2 separate regions of the Homo sapiens genome follow, and region 1 is linked to region 2. A link means that fine-mapping ties the variant in region 2 to the expression of a gene that starts in the linked region. Tissue or cell type: whole blood. Region 2 holds a variant in brackets; the other region holds the start of a gene. All regions are shown on one strand. Distances are from middle to middle.

What was found. PIP is the estimated chance that this variant, and not a neighbour inherited with it, causes the effect.
Region 1: it holds the start of SLC38A4-AS1, and the variant in region 2 is fine-mapped to the expression of SLC38A4-AS1 in whole blood (TOPMed, PIP above 0.99).

The regions. Positions count from the first base shown.
Region 1 is chr12:46,379,728-46,387,832 of GRCh38, reverse strand. It overlaps SLC38A4-AS1 (SLC38A4 antisense RNA 1), which reads right to left and starts at 4,157. Exons shown (of 4, transcript NR_125380.1): 1 at 4,138-4,157; 2 at 1-86. RefSeq lists enhancers at 1,091-1,592, 4,286-4,793 and silencers at 4,152-4,221, 4,372-4,731.
Region 2 is chr12:46,455,677-46,463,781 of GRCh38, reverse strand. The region is part of intron 2 of SLC38A4-AS1 (SLC38A4 antisense RNA 1); the gene reads right to left. The region is part of intron 1 of LOC124902923 (a long non-coding RNA gene); the gene reads left to right. Among named protein-coding and RNA genes, the nearest start is that of SLC38A4-AS1, 76 kb to the right of the region's middle. The variant T/G (reference allele first, on the strand shown) is at 3,704.

The DNA.
Region 1 (8,105 bases), 76 kb after region 2:
ACAGCCACAAGTTCGCACTCCAGTGCTGCAGCACCCAGCTGTACTTTGAATTTGCCCTTCAGAGAGGCTCCATCAGCAAAAGTCAACTGGAAAATCAAAGCAAGCAATGCTAAGTTTTTTAAAAACACGCTATGTCAGATGAATTAGAATGTAAAGTAGAAACTCTAGCCTTCGGAATAAATCAATGAGAGGAAGGAAGTAGAGACAAAATGCAAGCAATTACATTCATTCCTTAAAAGAAAAGGTGGTATCTGCCCAAGCTCCCTCCAATTTGAACTATGTTTTCACAGCCTTCCATCTCCTTTTTAAAATCTCTCTTCAACATCCCAGAGCAGCCTCCTCCCACCTGGCCAAGAACCCTCAGGCCATCAACTTGCTTAAAAAAATATGATGGCCCAGATTCTGATCACGTGCACATGACTGACGGCCATTGGATCTTCCCAGGGAGTACTGAAGTTTTATGAGTATTATGATCATAATCCCCTGCATTTATATTAGTTTTCTTTCTAATCTATATTTTCACATAAATTTTTCTTTAATTCTTGGCACTCAGCATGCTGTTATTCCTATTTAACGGTTTAAAAAACTGAGGCTCAGAGAAGCTAGCAAACTTGTCCTAAGTCCCAAAACTTTGAATCAACGGAACTGAAACTGGAGTATAAATGAAATGGGAAAATTTTTAACGACTGAAGGACTGGGGGAAATGCACACAGCAGGGAGGGGCAGGCATGCTGCGGGGAGGCGGAACTAAGCTATTTTTGTCAGGGGGTTACTTAAGCAAATCTGCTCTACTGTGGAAATAACCTCAACTAACTCCCCCTGAGTTTTACACAGCCTCTTTATTGCCTCCACAGCTCAAAACTATACATTCTCTAATTCTAAGACTTATTTTTATTATTTTTAAATACTAATTTGTTCATACAATGGATATCCAGGTGGTACTGTTCTTAAGAGGATTTTAAAGAAGGTACACCCAGTATGTTTTATATTTAACCTATGGCTGCTTCTCAAGAGTGTTTGTAAATTGAGAACTGTCTGTATTGCATGTGTGATGTCATTAAATATATATTTGGTCTGTCCAAAACTATCTGGCATTTGTCCTTTACCAACATTACTGAGTATTTTAGTTTCTCAATCATGCGAGCTTAAAAAGCACAGCCAAATCTAATGAATGTCAAACTTGTGTAGTGACTCAAGTTGATTTCAGTATGTTTAAACAGAAAAAAAAATAGAACTCACAAAGGATCAACTGGAATGAGTATTCACTTTAAAGGAATGCAAAAAGGAATCCTTTTGAACCATTCATTCTCCTGAATATGTTTAAATGTGCATTAATTTAGGTACAACTGCTAAGGAAAACTGTTTATCATATACGAAATATTTCCTCATTAAAAGTAATGGCAAAAACCGCAATTACTTTTGCACCAACCTAACAGCAGACACTTTGAATATGAGTGTAATGTTCTTTGTATGTAACAATGCTAATGCTAAGCTATCTCAAATATCTTCTTTTACCTGTTTTTTTTCCTTCGGTAACTTATCAGCCCTGTCCAATAACAGTTCCTACAATAATGGAACTATCTGTCAGTGCTGTCCATTTTTGAATGAATTAATAAAATTAATTTTATTTAAGTAGTCACATGTGGCTACTGAGCAATTAAAATGCCCTATTGAAGAACTTAATTGTCAATTTTATTAATTTTAATTCATTCAAATAGCCATGTGGCCAGTGGTTGTGTATTGGACAGAGCAGTTATAAGATCTCCTTCAGCCAAAAAAAAAAAAAAAAAAAAAAAACCTATGATTTTATCATTCTATCATTGTGAGGCCAGAATTAAGGCTGTAGTTATTAAACCTCTGATTATTAATTGGATGCTGAAATACAGTTAGCTAACTGAACACACAATTTTAAAGAGGCTGTTTTTGTTCTTAATAAACATCAAAAAAACTATTATGTGCAAAATAACATGTGGGTAAGTAGGATATACACAGACCAAGATTGAACAGACATTTCCTGACGGGGACATTGCTCTCCCAGTTTCTGCTAAATTCCAATTCAGTACATCCTAACAAGACATGGCTGATCAATTGTGTAAGCTCATGCTTTTAACAAGTATTGCTTAGCTCAATAACTCCCATAGCTCTAGGACAAACAACTGTCCTGAGCCCTGGGGACACGCTGTTGCACTCTGTTGAGCCTGACAGAATGCCTGCTCTTCCAGGCACTTACTCTCCTGGGAAGCACAGCCAGGTGAACAGGCCACGAGAATACACCGTGGTCAGTACCACTACAGGGGCAGACCTTGGGTGCCACACGAACACACAAAAGGAGCTTCTAACCCAGTCTTGGCTGGACAGGGAAGGTTTCAAGTGCAGAAAAGAAGGTTCCAGAAGGAAAAAACCAGTAGTATCTTGCTATCAAATCTATCCATTATTTAGGTTTCTTTGGGAAATTTCCTTTTCATTTGGCATTATGTCATCGTCCTTTCAAGGGTATTCACTTTTTGAATACATTTCAATCGATATATATTTATCGAACCCTGAAGACTAAAAAGCCTCATCGTCATTCTCCTGGAGGATTCACCATTTGCTCGGGGCTAAAGGTGTATGAAGACAAACCTTTCTCCTGAGAAAAAAAATGAGTTCTTAGGTCAAATATTTCAATAATCTACCCTTTAAGAAAAATGTAACACTGCCTTGGAATGCATGATTTCTTCATAAGACTTCCTTTTTACAATTGTGTGTGGCTTTCTACCCAAACTAACTTTAAACATCCCTCCACAATAAAATTCAGGAAGGCCACTTTAATAAAACGAGGGGGAAAATCCCACCAAAATGTAAACTTAATATTTCAACACAATTAAATTTATTAATAAAGAATTTCTATTGCATAGTGAACAAAGCATTGGATTTACCTGACAGTTTGGGGTCAAATTCCAGTTCCTCCTCTTAGAGAAGGAATGGCCTTGGGCGAGTTATCTAACTTCTCCAAGCATCAGTTTCCTCATTTGTAAAAGGTCAATAATGGGGTAAGAATAGCCCCTACCTCAGAGTTGATGAGAGAAATGAATATGCACACATTTACAAAGACCTTAAAGTAGTGCGTACCCTAAGCCTTATATGAAGATTATTATTCTTTCTAATTACAATAATTCTAATTGCAGAAATCTATGCGAAAACAATACACAGTTCTGGCCAAAAGAAGTTAAAACAAATGTGAAAAATAAGCGACATCCAGAAACTTCAGCAGCTCCCTTCTGTCCTATGCCTCAAGGTACCAGAGAGGGAAAAAGACCCCCAGGAGAGGCTGTGAGGAAACCTGAACTGCAAACCCACCACGATGTCTTCCTGGGAAAGGCAAGTTGGTAAAGAAAGATGTGAACTCTATTTCAGGGTAGTATGTTTTTTTCATTTGCTTCCAAGACTTTGATGGAATGACTTGAGAGGAAAAGTTCACAATTACTAGAAAGAACCTAAAAGGACATGAGAGATGAAACCGTTGCAGTATTTTTGAAATAAATGTTTTCCTGCAAGAGCAGAGTCATGGGCGGGGTGTCTGTGTAATATCTACTCAACACAGCCGAAGGGTAAGAGGAAATCTTGGTAAGCCGACTTCCAAGTCTTAATGGGGAACCATACGGAACCAACTGCACGCCAAATCCCACGCTCACCGAAGCTTCAGGGATTTTCTTGTGGGTCTGGGGGTTTAATCTGACAGCTCCTAGAGCCTTCAGGACTTCCCGGGCACAGATAATGGGCCGCGACTGCACCCCCGCGTCCCTCCTTGGGGCGCAGGCTTTCCACAGCTACAGTTCTCCACGTCAGCAGCCACGTACACAAGCGCCGGCAGCTGCCAACAGGGCGTGCCCGCTTCCAACCCTGCACTCTCCCAAGCAGGACATCCCTGCACCGCCCGGCGCGTTCGCGAAAACTCCGCGGGGCCTCGAGGCGTCCCGGGATTAGCCCTGACGCTGTAGGGCTCTCTAGGTTTTCCACGACGCAGGGGAGCGTAACTGGAGCGCACCCGACAGCCTCTCAGCTTGCCCAGGCTCGACTGGATGGGGCTTTGCTGGACCCCCGACCCGACCCCCACACACCCGGGCGGCGGGGCCCAGGTACCTGCCAACGCCTCCGCACCTCATCGTCCCCTCTGCTTCCCCTCCTCCCTCTCCCCGAACCCTTCCCCCCTCCTCCCCGCCTCCTCCCCGCCTCCTCTTCGCCTCCTCCTCCACCTTCTCCTCCCCCCGACCCCTGCTCCCACTCTTGGCTCCAAGTCCGCGCGCGGGCTGGGGAGGCGGTGCCGAATGAATCACCGTCACGTGGGTCGCGGGCGCGCAGAGGCGGGCTGCGCCCGGGCGGCTCTGGCGCTCGGAGCGTTAGTGGAAAATTTCCGGAGATCTACTGGGGCTGCGCGCCGCAGGCCCCGCCCGCCGCCTCCCCGCTCCTTCGTATCCCCACCTCCTTTTCCCCCTCCCTCCTCCTTTTCTCTCTTCCCCCGCCGTTTTCCGGTCGCAGCCGGGCCCCGACATTGCGGAGGTTCCTTTCTCTCCGGGGAGCGGCGCTGCGCACGCCCCGCCCGCTGCAGCGCCCCAGGCTGGCGCCGCCAGACCCCTTTGCCCTGGGGCCGCCAGCCCTCGCTTCCTTCGCGCGGCTCCAAGCCGCCACGCGGCCTTGCCCCCGACCTTGCGTGTAGCCTGCTGGTATCCTGAGAGGCCAGGAGCGGCGTCCTGGCGCCTCCGCCTTCGCCTCTGGGGCGCCGCACCCCCGCCACCTCCGTTCCGCATTGAGTGAGACCCCCCACATCTCCGGGCGGAATGTGAGACAAAGGGAGAAGACGGTGACGATGGGCGTCTTGTCTTCTCATTTAGAATTACTGCACCGCCGTTTAAACAAAGCACATGCAAGGCCAATTGTGTTTTACCCACTCCCACTTAACCACTGAGAAAATAAGCTATTTTCTCTATCCCATAACATTCTCCACTTCGTTTTCCCAACCACGAACAAAATTTATTCCTGAGACAGCAACTTTGAGGATTTCGTTGACCTCATCCATGTAGAAGTGACAAATGGTTACACAACAAAATTGTTTCACTCAAAGGGGGTTGTTGTGTACGTGGTTCACCTCAATAAAACACACATTTAACTGTTTCAGCAACTGTTTAGCCCTGGACTGTCGCCCGGGTTAATGTCGCTGAATGGGGTGGGGGGTTGAAAAGTGGCATTAGCGCCACGTGTCCCAAGACGAAGTGACATGGAACCGGAGGCAGGTGCCTTAATCAGTCACGAAGTGCCAACGATGTCAGTCAAAACAGTTGGGAGTTTTATTGAGTAAAGATCTCAGAACCAAGCCCATATATTAAATGGTTCCCATCTAAGAACCAGAATTGCAGGTGTGTTAATTTTAATAAATCGTTATTTCAGTATCTTAGCCCTGGGCAAAGAAAGATCCGGAAACTGACTGAAGGCCAGGAATGTAGGTTCATCGTGGCCTACGAGTGCTTTGGGTAGCACACCTTCTTTCAGTCACTGTCATTTCTCTTTAGACAAGAAGACCCCTAACAAGTATTAAAATAAAGGTATTTTTTAATGATCCTGTTTTGGAAAATTGTAAGGATCTGAAATTTTTAATTTTTTAAAACAATGGAGCACTTCAATAAAACTTCTATTTTCTTTACTAAGAATATACACAGCTTGTTTTTTAGCTTAATTCTTGATTGTTGCTGTGACCTTACCACATTCTGAATAACCTTAAGCATGTATATGAGAATCGTATCTGTGATTTTGCTTTCACATTTCACTTTCCAAGACACTTATTGGTAATTAGCAGGTGTCAGTTTACCTAGCCAAAGAACCATTGTCTATAAATCCTTCATCTCTCTGCCATTGTTTTCTTTCACATTCATTGGCATATACTACACCTAGCAAAATAGACCATTCCAGGGTCAAATGAAAAGGCCAACAGGTAAGTATCACAAGAAGGTCATTAGTCAAGCCGTTATTTCCCCTCTTTTATTTGGGAAGGAGATGGGAGAAACAGAGTTCTGATACTAGGTCCCTGGAAAGTTCTTCAGTCTTGACAGAATTGGGTATGTTTGTACTAAAGTATCTGTAAAACTAAATTTTTTTAAATTTTTTGTTGTTGTTTTGAGACGGAGTGTTGCTCTTGTCGCCCAGGCTGCGGTGCAATGACGCGATCTTGGCTCACTGCAACCTCCGCCTCCCAGGTTCAAGCAATTCTCCTGCCTTGGCCTCCCAAATAGCTGCGATTACAGGCGCCTGCCAGCACACCCAGCTAATTTTTGTATTTTTACTAGAGACGGGGTTTCACCATGTTGGCCAGGCTGGTCTCAAACTCCTGACCTCAGGTGATCCGCCTGCCTCGACCTCCCAAAGTGCTGGGATTACAGACATGAGCCATCGCGCCCAGCCATATTTCTAAATTTTTTTAAGACTGAGTTTCTGTGGGCCCCTTAATTTTCTTTTTCTTGCTGAAAAATGAGGTATGCATTTACAAAATACTGATGCTTGCAAATATATGGATTTACAATATAATATATTTTTTAGGCATTACTATGTTTTCCAGTCCTGGCCAGTGGGATCTGAGACAACAATAACAGCATTTCCAGGAAATGTTATCTCTCAAAATAAAATTAACTCACAAAATGACGCTCCTTTCTTTTGCAATGGATGTGGTCCTGTCTGCCTATGACCCCTAAAACCACTGCAGCCAACATGTGACCATGATGGGAGAGATCCCCAGCATGTTGAAGAAAGCAAAGTGAAAATATAATGAGCTCTTTGTCTTGGAGGGAGGTATCAGGGCCAAGAATTAACCCCAGAACTGTGCTCTCTACATACTTCTTATTATGTGAGATAGTGTCATTATTTAAGCCACTTTCAATTGCATATTGTGTTTATTGCCATAAAATGTTTTCTGGCTGGGCACAGTGGCTCATGCCTATAATCCCAGCACTTTGAGAAGCTGAGGTGGTGGATTGCTTGAGCCCAGGAGTTTGAGATCAGCCTGGGCAACTTGGCTGAAACCTGTCTCTACAAAAAATTAGCCTAGCCAGACGTGGTGGCCTGTGCCTATAGTCCCAGCTACCCAGGAGACTGAGGTGGGAGAATCACCTGAACCTGGGCTCTCTGATCACACTGCTGCATTCCAGCCTGGGCGACAGAGTGAGACCCTGTCTCAAAGTAAAATAAAAATAAATAAATAAATAAATAAATAAATAAATAAATAAATAAAATAAAATAATAAAATAAAAATATTCTTGCTGCTGACAACTTCTCTGTGGTAGCCAGCCTCCAAAATGGCCCCCAGTGATGCTTACCTCCTGGTATGCACTCCCTTGTGTAGTCCCCTTCTATGTTGAATCAGGGCTTGCCTTTGTGACTGATAGAATATGGTAGAAATGATAAAGTGTGACTTCCAAGGCTAGTTCATAAAGGCATTGCAGCTTCTGCCTTGCTCTTTCTTGCTAACTTGCTCTGGGATAAGCCAGCTGCCATGTCATGAAGACATTCAGTCAGGGTTGTGCAGACACCTTCTTGGAGAGGAAGCAACCAGCCAGCACCAACTTACCAACATGTGAATGACCTTGGAAGATCTTCCAGCCCCAGTCATGCCATCAGATGACTAGAGCCCTCTCACAGCTGACTGCAACCTCATTAAAGACTTAAAGCCAGAACACCCAACAGAGCTGCTCTTGAATTCCTGATTCATAGACACTTCGAGAGATAATAAATTATTGTTGCTTTCAGACACTAAGTCTTGGAATAATTTGTTACATAGCAATTGATATCTAATAGAGTATCTGTCAACACCAGAAAAACATGCCAAAGTCAGCAAAGCACTCCCAGAGTCCGTACTGTTGCTTTAGACTTGAGAGCTATCTTACAAGATTGAATACAACCGTTCATTTATCAAGCACTTTCTAAATATGATCCCAAGAATAATATATACAAAATGATAAAAAGAAAAAAAGAGTTGAGACAAGAATTTCCTCAGGCACCTGGAAAGATTAATATTAAAAATATGGAAATGCAACAACATGGATGAACCTCAAGAACATTATGCTAAGTGGAAAAAAGTCAGGCAC
Region 2 (8,105 bases):
ATGGAGGAGGCTTCTGGAATGCTGATAATGTTCTGTATGTATACATCAGGGTGCTGATTGCACAGGTGCATTCAGTTTGTAAATCCCATCAATACCCTATACTGAAAATTCTAGTAGTAGTTTTTCATTGTCCATACTATTTAGAAGGCATTTAAAGAAATCAATGGGGTGCTAAGCACTGTACAAGCCCCTGTGGAGGTTTCAAACAATATGTAATACATGTGCTTTTCCCTCAAAGAGGTACCTTTCTATTTTCCCATCAGAATAAGTCAGCTGTGATATGGGGGGGAAAGATTGAGAATCTTTGAGGAGTTCTGACACTGCATGTCCATGCATCAGTCCAGGCCGATAGTCACCGTCCTGATCTTTAACTTTCTGAGCTATGTCAGAACTCTAAGATCCTCTGCTCTATAATTCTCTTCTGGTCAAATAGTCATGGTTGTCATTTTGTTCTTTTAGTCTGAAGAAGTCTTTTTGGCACTAAGAATATCAAATTAGGTTGACACTGGAAACAAACGTGATTAAATCATAACAAATCTGTGTAGCTTTTTACCAAAAGACAGGGCCGTAGGACTGAAGAAGGCTGGGACCTGGCACCCTGACTGCTGGTTTATGTTCAATGCCCTGTCACTAGCTTGCATGGCCTTAAGCAAGGCTTATCATTTTTCTGGTCCTCAGTTTTGTTATTTGAAAGTCAAGAGGGCTGGGCTCCCTCCAAATCCCTTCAGTTCTAAATTTCTGTTTCTGAGTTAATTTGTTGAAAACTAAGAAGCAGCAGGACAAAGACTGGTTTTCTGGCTTAAGCCCAGTTTTCTTTCCACCGATATGTATGTTTAAAAAGCAACCTAAATTCAGATTTTAAAATTAATGTTGCCCAGTATGTGCTGGACACTACCATGTGAGGTAGGTATGTTACTCCTTTTTCAGATGAGGAACTGACCATCAGAAAGTTAAGAGACTTGCCCCAGTGTATGTGCCTGATTGATGCCAAAGGCAGAATAAAAAACTTGGTCCTTCTGGCTCCAGAACTTCCCTCTCCCACCAGGGCTTGTAATACATCCAAAAATCAACAAATAGCCCTAAAATAAATCCAATCCTAAAGCAAAAATAGTCTTTCTTTTTCTAGTTGCCTCCAGTTGAGAAAGAAAAACAAGAATTGGGAGTTTCACTTATAAAGATAAAATTTCATGTCATTTGTTAAATTTATAAAACTATATGCAGTTTGTAAAAGGTCTTGCAACGCCTCCAAGTCCCAGCATGTTTTAATACTTGACAAACGTGTTTTCGTTTGTGCTGCACTTCACATTTTATCTGAAGATCTCAATTCTTTGGGGGCATAAAAGACTTTAATGGGCATAGAGTCAAACATCAACAAGGATTTTCTGGGCTTTGCTTTAAAATTTTACTGCTAAATTAGAAAGGCTTACAGATAGAACACTCAACCTGCCATGACATCCTTTGTCGGGTGTCATATATGCTTTGCAGGAGTTGCCACCATGAAAACAACTGCAAGATGCAAAGGAAAATAGCTTTGCAGTGAGGTGCAATGAACAACACTCATAGTAAACTTAGAAACTTTTTTTTATGTTGTTTCAACCAGGCTGATGATTGTTTTAGAACAAGTCTCCTGCCATGGCCTGACACTTGATCCACAGAATTCCTTAAAAGACACTGGGCCAGGCAGACAGTAATATATCATATGCCTGACAAAGACACAAAACATCCTGGATATTGCCATAACTCTCAAGGAGTTGTTAGAGTGGCTAGAGGTCACTTAAGTACTTCTAAAAATACAATGGCATAGCCTTCCTGGGCTTATTTCTTTTAGACACTAGACCATCAATTAATATTTGAGAAACATGCATTATAAAAGTTTGCTCTGAGAAAAATTTACAATATTTAGTCAGTCTTTATCATGTGATTCCTCCGGGCTGAATCTCCCGTTCAATTTCTCTTCCCAGATTCTACCCTAAACTAAATACCGAGGTTTGGGGTTACCACTATATATAATGGGACTATTTTCTAAATCAAGGCTTATGACCCTGCATATTTGTTTTTTTCCTGTGGTTGTAAATTAACAGTATGTTCCCACTACACTTGTGTTCTCACGTATTCCTGTCCCCGCCCTGGCCCAGTGTACTGACCTTACTAAGTGCACAAATAGTGTCTCTTGGAAACTGCTTACATTCAATAGCACTTTCTAGTGTTCCATGTATCATTTGTTAAACATGCTTTTAGAATCTATCATGCCAGAGGCTAGGAGTTACTGATATAACATTAAACAAGTTGGACATAGTGCTGTCCCCACAGAACTGACCACCAGAGATATGACCAGGAGATATGACCAAAGAGATATGAACAGGAACCCTGGGAATACCAAACGGGAGGGAAATCAAGGGTGCAGCAGAAACAGAGTCCAGCAGAAGAGGAATGTTCTCCCATATACAGGAATCTAAATTCTACTTGATATTCTATCTCTTATAAGCACGTGTAGTTCACACCTCTATTTGGGATCCCTATAGAACACAGAGAAAGAGGGATGCTCTACTTCCCACTCATTTGCAAGCTTGCATTTAGGGAGCACTCACCATACAGTGAGTCTGATGTATGCTGTACATAGTAACAGTATACCCTGAGCCAGATGCTGTTTTAAGCCTTTTACATATATCTGTGAATTTTTTCATTTGATTCTTACAACCTCTCTATGAGGTAGTATACAGTAGTGTCTCTATTCTACAGATGACGAAACTGAAACACAGAGAAGCTGAGTAACTTGCCTGAGTTTACACAGCTACTAACTTAGCAGCAGCATTTAAACTCAGACAGCCTAGCTCCAGCCTGAGCTCTTTGGCCCTTCCTTCCATGCCTCTCTACCCCAGCACGTAGATAAGCAAGCACACCATGCCTCTCTTTCCTGCAGGAGCTCTCACTCCACTGGCAAAAGTGGGTATAAACACCTACACAGTGTACAGGGGCTATACTGGAAATATGAATCACATGACTGCAACTCACAAAACAAACTTCAGAAGACATAGTCCACAACACTTATACAAAACAGAACCTATTCTCCATAACAGAAATGGCTACCACTTATTAAGTGCCCCCCGCAAGGTACCTGGCACTTCATTTAAATTATCTCATTGCCTTCTCATAACAACCATGCAAGGGGCATAGTATCACTTCATCTTACATAAGAGGAAACTGAGGCTAAAAGAAATTGTGTGACCTCTTTTAGCTGAAGCTGAGGTCCTTTCCCTATTTATGTAGTCTCCTTAAAACACAATGCTTTGTCCTTACTCCTAAAAAGTGACACCAATGTCAGGTAACTTCATAACTTCTCTTTGATGTAGAAAGTAAGGGGAAGTGTTTCTGTTCAGGCAGTTACCAGATTCACTTCCCAAACTCTGCAACAGGAAGCTGGTGCAAACACACCAAAACATCATGCTCACAGCAGCCTGACTGCTTAGAAACCTCCAGCTCCAGATTATACCCTCCAAGGCTGACGGAAGCACTGCTGAAGGCACTTGCAAGGTATAAGGGTGCCACAATGGAGCGCTCCATCCCAGAGGCGAGGGTGATCCCAGGGACAAAGTGTTTGAAGAGCTCAGCAAATCATAAGGGGGAGGAAGAGGAAGAAGAGGGGAGGGGAGGGACTGGGACAGGATCCTTCCATCAAAATTGTCCTTCAACAACAAAGGTTGCC[T/G]AACCCTTCCTGATCAACGCAACCTCCACTTTTGGCTAGAAAGTGTCCTGGAATGGAAAAGAGAACTTAAGACCAAGGATTTGTATCCAGGATTTTAGAAGAGGAAGAGAAGTACATTTTAGCCCTGAAGTGTGAGACGTATTGCTTCTAAGAATAGAAAAAAGATAAAAATTATAACTGTTTTTAAAACATATACTACAGTTTTATAATAACAGCTGCTTTCCTCCCTCCTCCATCCCCCTCCTGCATAGAAAACACACTAACTGTACTAGTTAAATCCACAGTAATAGGTCAACTTAATATTAGTTTTTACTTTTTTTTTTGAGACACAGTCTTGTTCTGTCACCCAAGCTGAAGTGTAGTAGAGCGATCCCAGCTCACTGTAACCTCCACTTGCCGGGTTCAAGCGATTCTCCTGCCTCAGCCTCCCAAGTAGCCGGAACCACAGGTGCACGCCACCATGCCCAGCTAATTTTTGTATTTTTAATAGAGATGGAGTTTTGCCAGGCTGGTCTCGATCTTGTTGCCTTATGTGATCTGCCCACCTCAGCCTCCCAACATGTTGAGATTACAGGCATGAGCCATTGCCCTCTCTGTAGGGGACAGAAAAGGAGCAAGTCGTTAGACTTTCCAAAGAGTAGAAAAAAGAAAAGAACATGGCAAAACAGCATTTGGTTATCAGCAGGAGCAATGACTCAAATACAAGCATAACAAAGGAAGGGATGTGTGGTTGAGTCAAGAAAGTAGTGACTTGTGTGAAAACCAAAGAGGAGTGAATATTGTTCCTTCTGACCAATGAATGTAGACAGTCAGCGTGCTCGGAGCCTCATGGCATCCTGCTTTCCCCTGGGGCTGCTAGGGGGATTAGGTAAATATAAACGTCTTCAAATAACACAAGATGTGAAAAATAGAAAGCACAGCAAACTGGAATAGTCATCAGATGATATATCTAGGAGAGCTTATTCTGCAAACTAGAATTACAGAATAGAGAGATGTGGTCAATTAAGAGTATTTAAAGATGAGTTTCTATGATGAGGGTAGGTGACAAGAGGGAGTTGTAATCCAGGACAAAGAATCAGAAGAGACCACCATTCTCCAAAGACCAGGTGATGATTTTAATAAACTGGCTCATGTACTATCACCCCAACAGCTAGTTTCTATATCAAAATTAGTTCAAGATTTCAACAGGAGGAAGTGGTTTACAAAAGAATTACCAAGAATCCAGAAGTGTTTAATGGAAAAAAAAATGCTAATGAGGTAAAAGTTGATTTGTGTACTATTTAGACTACGCATTTTTTTTAAAAGGGGGGTGTCCTACCAGCAGGTAGGACCGTTAAAAAAAAGACACTGCTGCAAAATTCCTACACTCCCAGAGTTCTTCATGGCCTGCGACACACTGTCATGAACCTATCTCCTAGACTAGAGCCTCATAGTTACCTACTTAGATAGTGCAGGAATTATGCTCATTTTACAGATGGGAAACTGAGGCACAGAGAAGTAAAACAATTTTTGAAGGGTCACACAGCTAGTAGGTGACAGAGTTAAGTCCACCCTAGAGACTGCATTTTAAATGAGTCACTTGGTGCAATCACAAAAACAATTATTCTATGATCTGGGGGTTTTTCCCTAATGATTATTGAGATATAAACACGTTGCATGACTTTTTTATTTTAATCCTCAGAAAAACACTTTGAGATTTGTAATATTGTCCTTTTGGCACCAGCATTTATTAGGCTCTGTAACTTTAACAGCATCACTTAAAGTGAGGCATCTACTTCAGTTTCCTCCTCTCTTATTTTAATCTTCAGTTATTTTAAGGATTCAACTCATTTATTCATGAAAAGCACTTGGAATAGCACCTGGTACATGGTAGGGTTCTGTTGGTGTAAGCTGTTATCATTACTGCTGTTGCCCTGACCTGGTCAAAAACCTGAACTGTAGACATTCCCTTATTACCACACTAAGTCATCAATTTCTTTCTAGTGTTTACAATGTGCTTCAAAACAAATTAGTTTGCCAAATATAAAAGAAATACACCTAAATGAAAATATATGCCTTTAAATTAATGAAATGTAATTGTCGCTAGAACAGCGACTGGCACAAATTATTAGGTCATTGAATATTTCATAAGTGTATTAACAAATGAATGGGCAGCCGAGTAAAGGAATAAACGATCAAAAGTTCAAACAAGAAAGTGAATAACTAGTGGCTGGGCGCGGTGGCTCACAACTGTAATCCTAGCACTTTGGGAGGCCGAGGCAGGTGGACTGCCTGAGCTTAGGAGTTCAAGACCAGCCTGGGCAACATGGTGAAACCCCATCTCTACTAAAATACAAAAAATTAGTTGGGCATGGTGGCATGTGCCTGTAGTCCCAGCTACTCAGGAGGTTGAGGCAGGAGAATTGCTTGAACCGGGGAGGCAGAGGTTGCAGTGAGCAGAGATCGCACCACTGCACTCCAGCCTGGGCAACAGAGTGAGAATCCGTCTCCAAATAAAAAAGAATATGTAACAAACAAAATTATGAAAGCAAACAAAATTATGAAACTTAAATTAATCTGCAGAGCCTGGGAATAAATAAATAAAAAAGGAATAAAATGGAAAGCAACATTTTTTTATTTTCTAAGAATTGTTTTTCAATATTTCACTTAATTCACTGTAAACCATGTCTCTATTAAATGCAATTAACGTTTTTCAAAAGTAAGCAGTATGAAGTCACATAAAAAGCTAATAAAATCAACATCCAATCATAAGAGACCCTCACTGAAATCTTATTCAAAATTGAGGAAGTCTATAGTCACGTTTTTATTTCATCCTTAATTTCCCACGCTTTTCAAAGAGCCATATTATAACTCTTTCTCAAATATTTGGGAGGAAGTATTTTGATTGTGAAAATAGATGCTCCGAGAGTACCTAAGCCAAATAAATATTTACATTCTGCCTTTTTAGTTGAACAATTGACTTTGTTCTTTAGCATTTAGGTCAAAATACTTAAAAGTTTTAAAACATCAATAACAAGAGGATATGATTTTTCACCAGATAGTCTAAACTTACAGGTTTTAGCAAAACCTTCACAAGAAGGAATTGAGTAATTTAGAAATGTTAATGTACACACACCGTAAAAATAAAAAAAGGGGGTTGGGGTGTTGGCCACTTATTCTTTTTAACTAAAAAAAAGTCTCTCTTCCTCTTCCCTGTGTTTATGTAGTTAAGCCTTGGTGAGCATTTACAACCACTTACATCATTATAATGATAACCTCAATCTGCTGACTTTATGTAGGATTTATATCAAAAGAGTCTTGGAGCTTAGTATGCCTTATTTCATTTTCAGAGCATCCTTGTACATCACCATGTGACCAGTATCTTATCTGTATCATACAAAATTAAAACCAGATGTACTAGGAGACAAAGCAGCTTTCTCAAAGGAGATAAAGTCACATAATTATCAACTTAATGAAACTTGGCTTCAAACTCATGTCTTCTCTTAATACAGCCAAGTTTTTCCCCACTAGATTATTCTTCCTTTATATAAATTTAAGAAGTCATGGTGGCAGCTGAGCAGAAAGAACTGACTACCTGGAAAAACTCCAAGATTTTTTTGAGCTTGGGTTAACCTGACCCAGCAGAAGCTCTGAGACTTGGAAGAGAGGGAAGCAAGGCTATAAGAACTATTCATGTTTTTTGACACTGAGGAACACGTAAATTACTGATAACAGGTCAGCAAAATGAAAGTGTAAAAAAAGTGAGAAACATCAGTGTTTCATAATCAACTTTCATCATGGGCTTCACTGGAAACTCTTCTTCCAACTCTGAGCTGCATATCAAGCCTTGGAGCAAACACTCCTTCCATCTGAACTCTCCCTTGAGTTGTAGGAACTGCTCCTGTGGGTGCTAGAAAACAAGATTCTCCTGAAGCTGACTTAGAGCAGGTGGCTTTGTGTGAGGAAGACTGCAGAGGTGTGTCAGGTGTGTCCAGTTGCACTGAATTGTTCACATTTTTGACACTGGAATTTTGCACATTCTTTGGAAATAAGCCGTTCATTTGGATTCCCACAGTCACCTCTCCCAAGCCTGACTTGAGCTGCCAAGACTGAGTCACCTTCTCTACTCAGTGGGTCATATTACTGGTGGCAGGTTCCACCTGTTTTAGTATTTGCTTGAAAACAAAAGTGATCTTTGAGAGTTGAGTGACAGGGGCTGCTGAGCAGGCTTCCAAACCAATTGTGGGAGAGATCAAGATAACCAGTCACCTACAAGAGGAATTATGAAGACAACTAAGCCAAAAGAGAGTGTTCCAATAGATACCTTTGTCCCAATATCTTTCTTGGGATTAACCAGTGTTGGGCAAGGTTATCAGTTTAAACAGAAGTAGGAGAGGAAGTAAGCTTAAATTGCAGCAGAAAG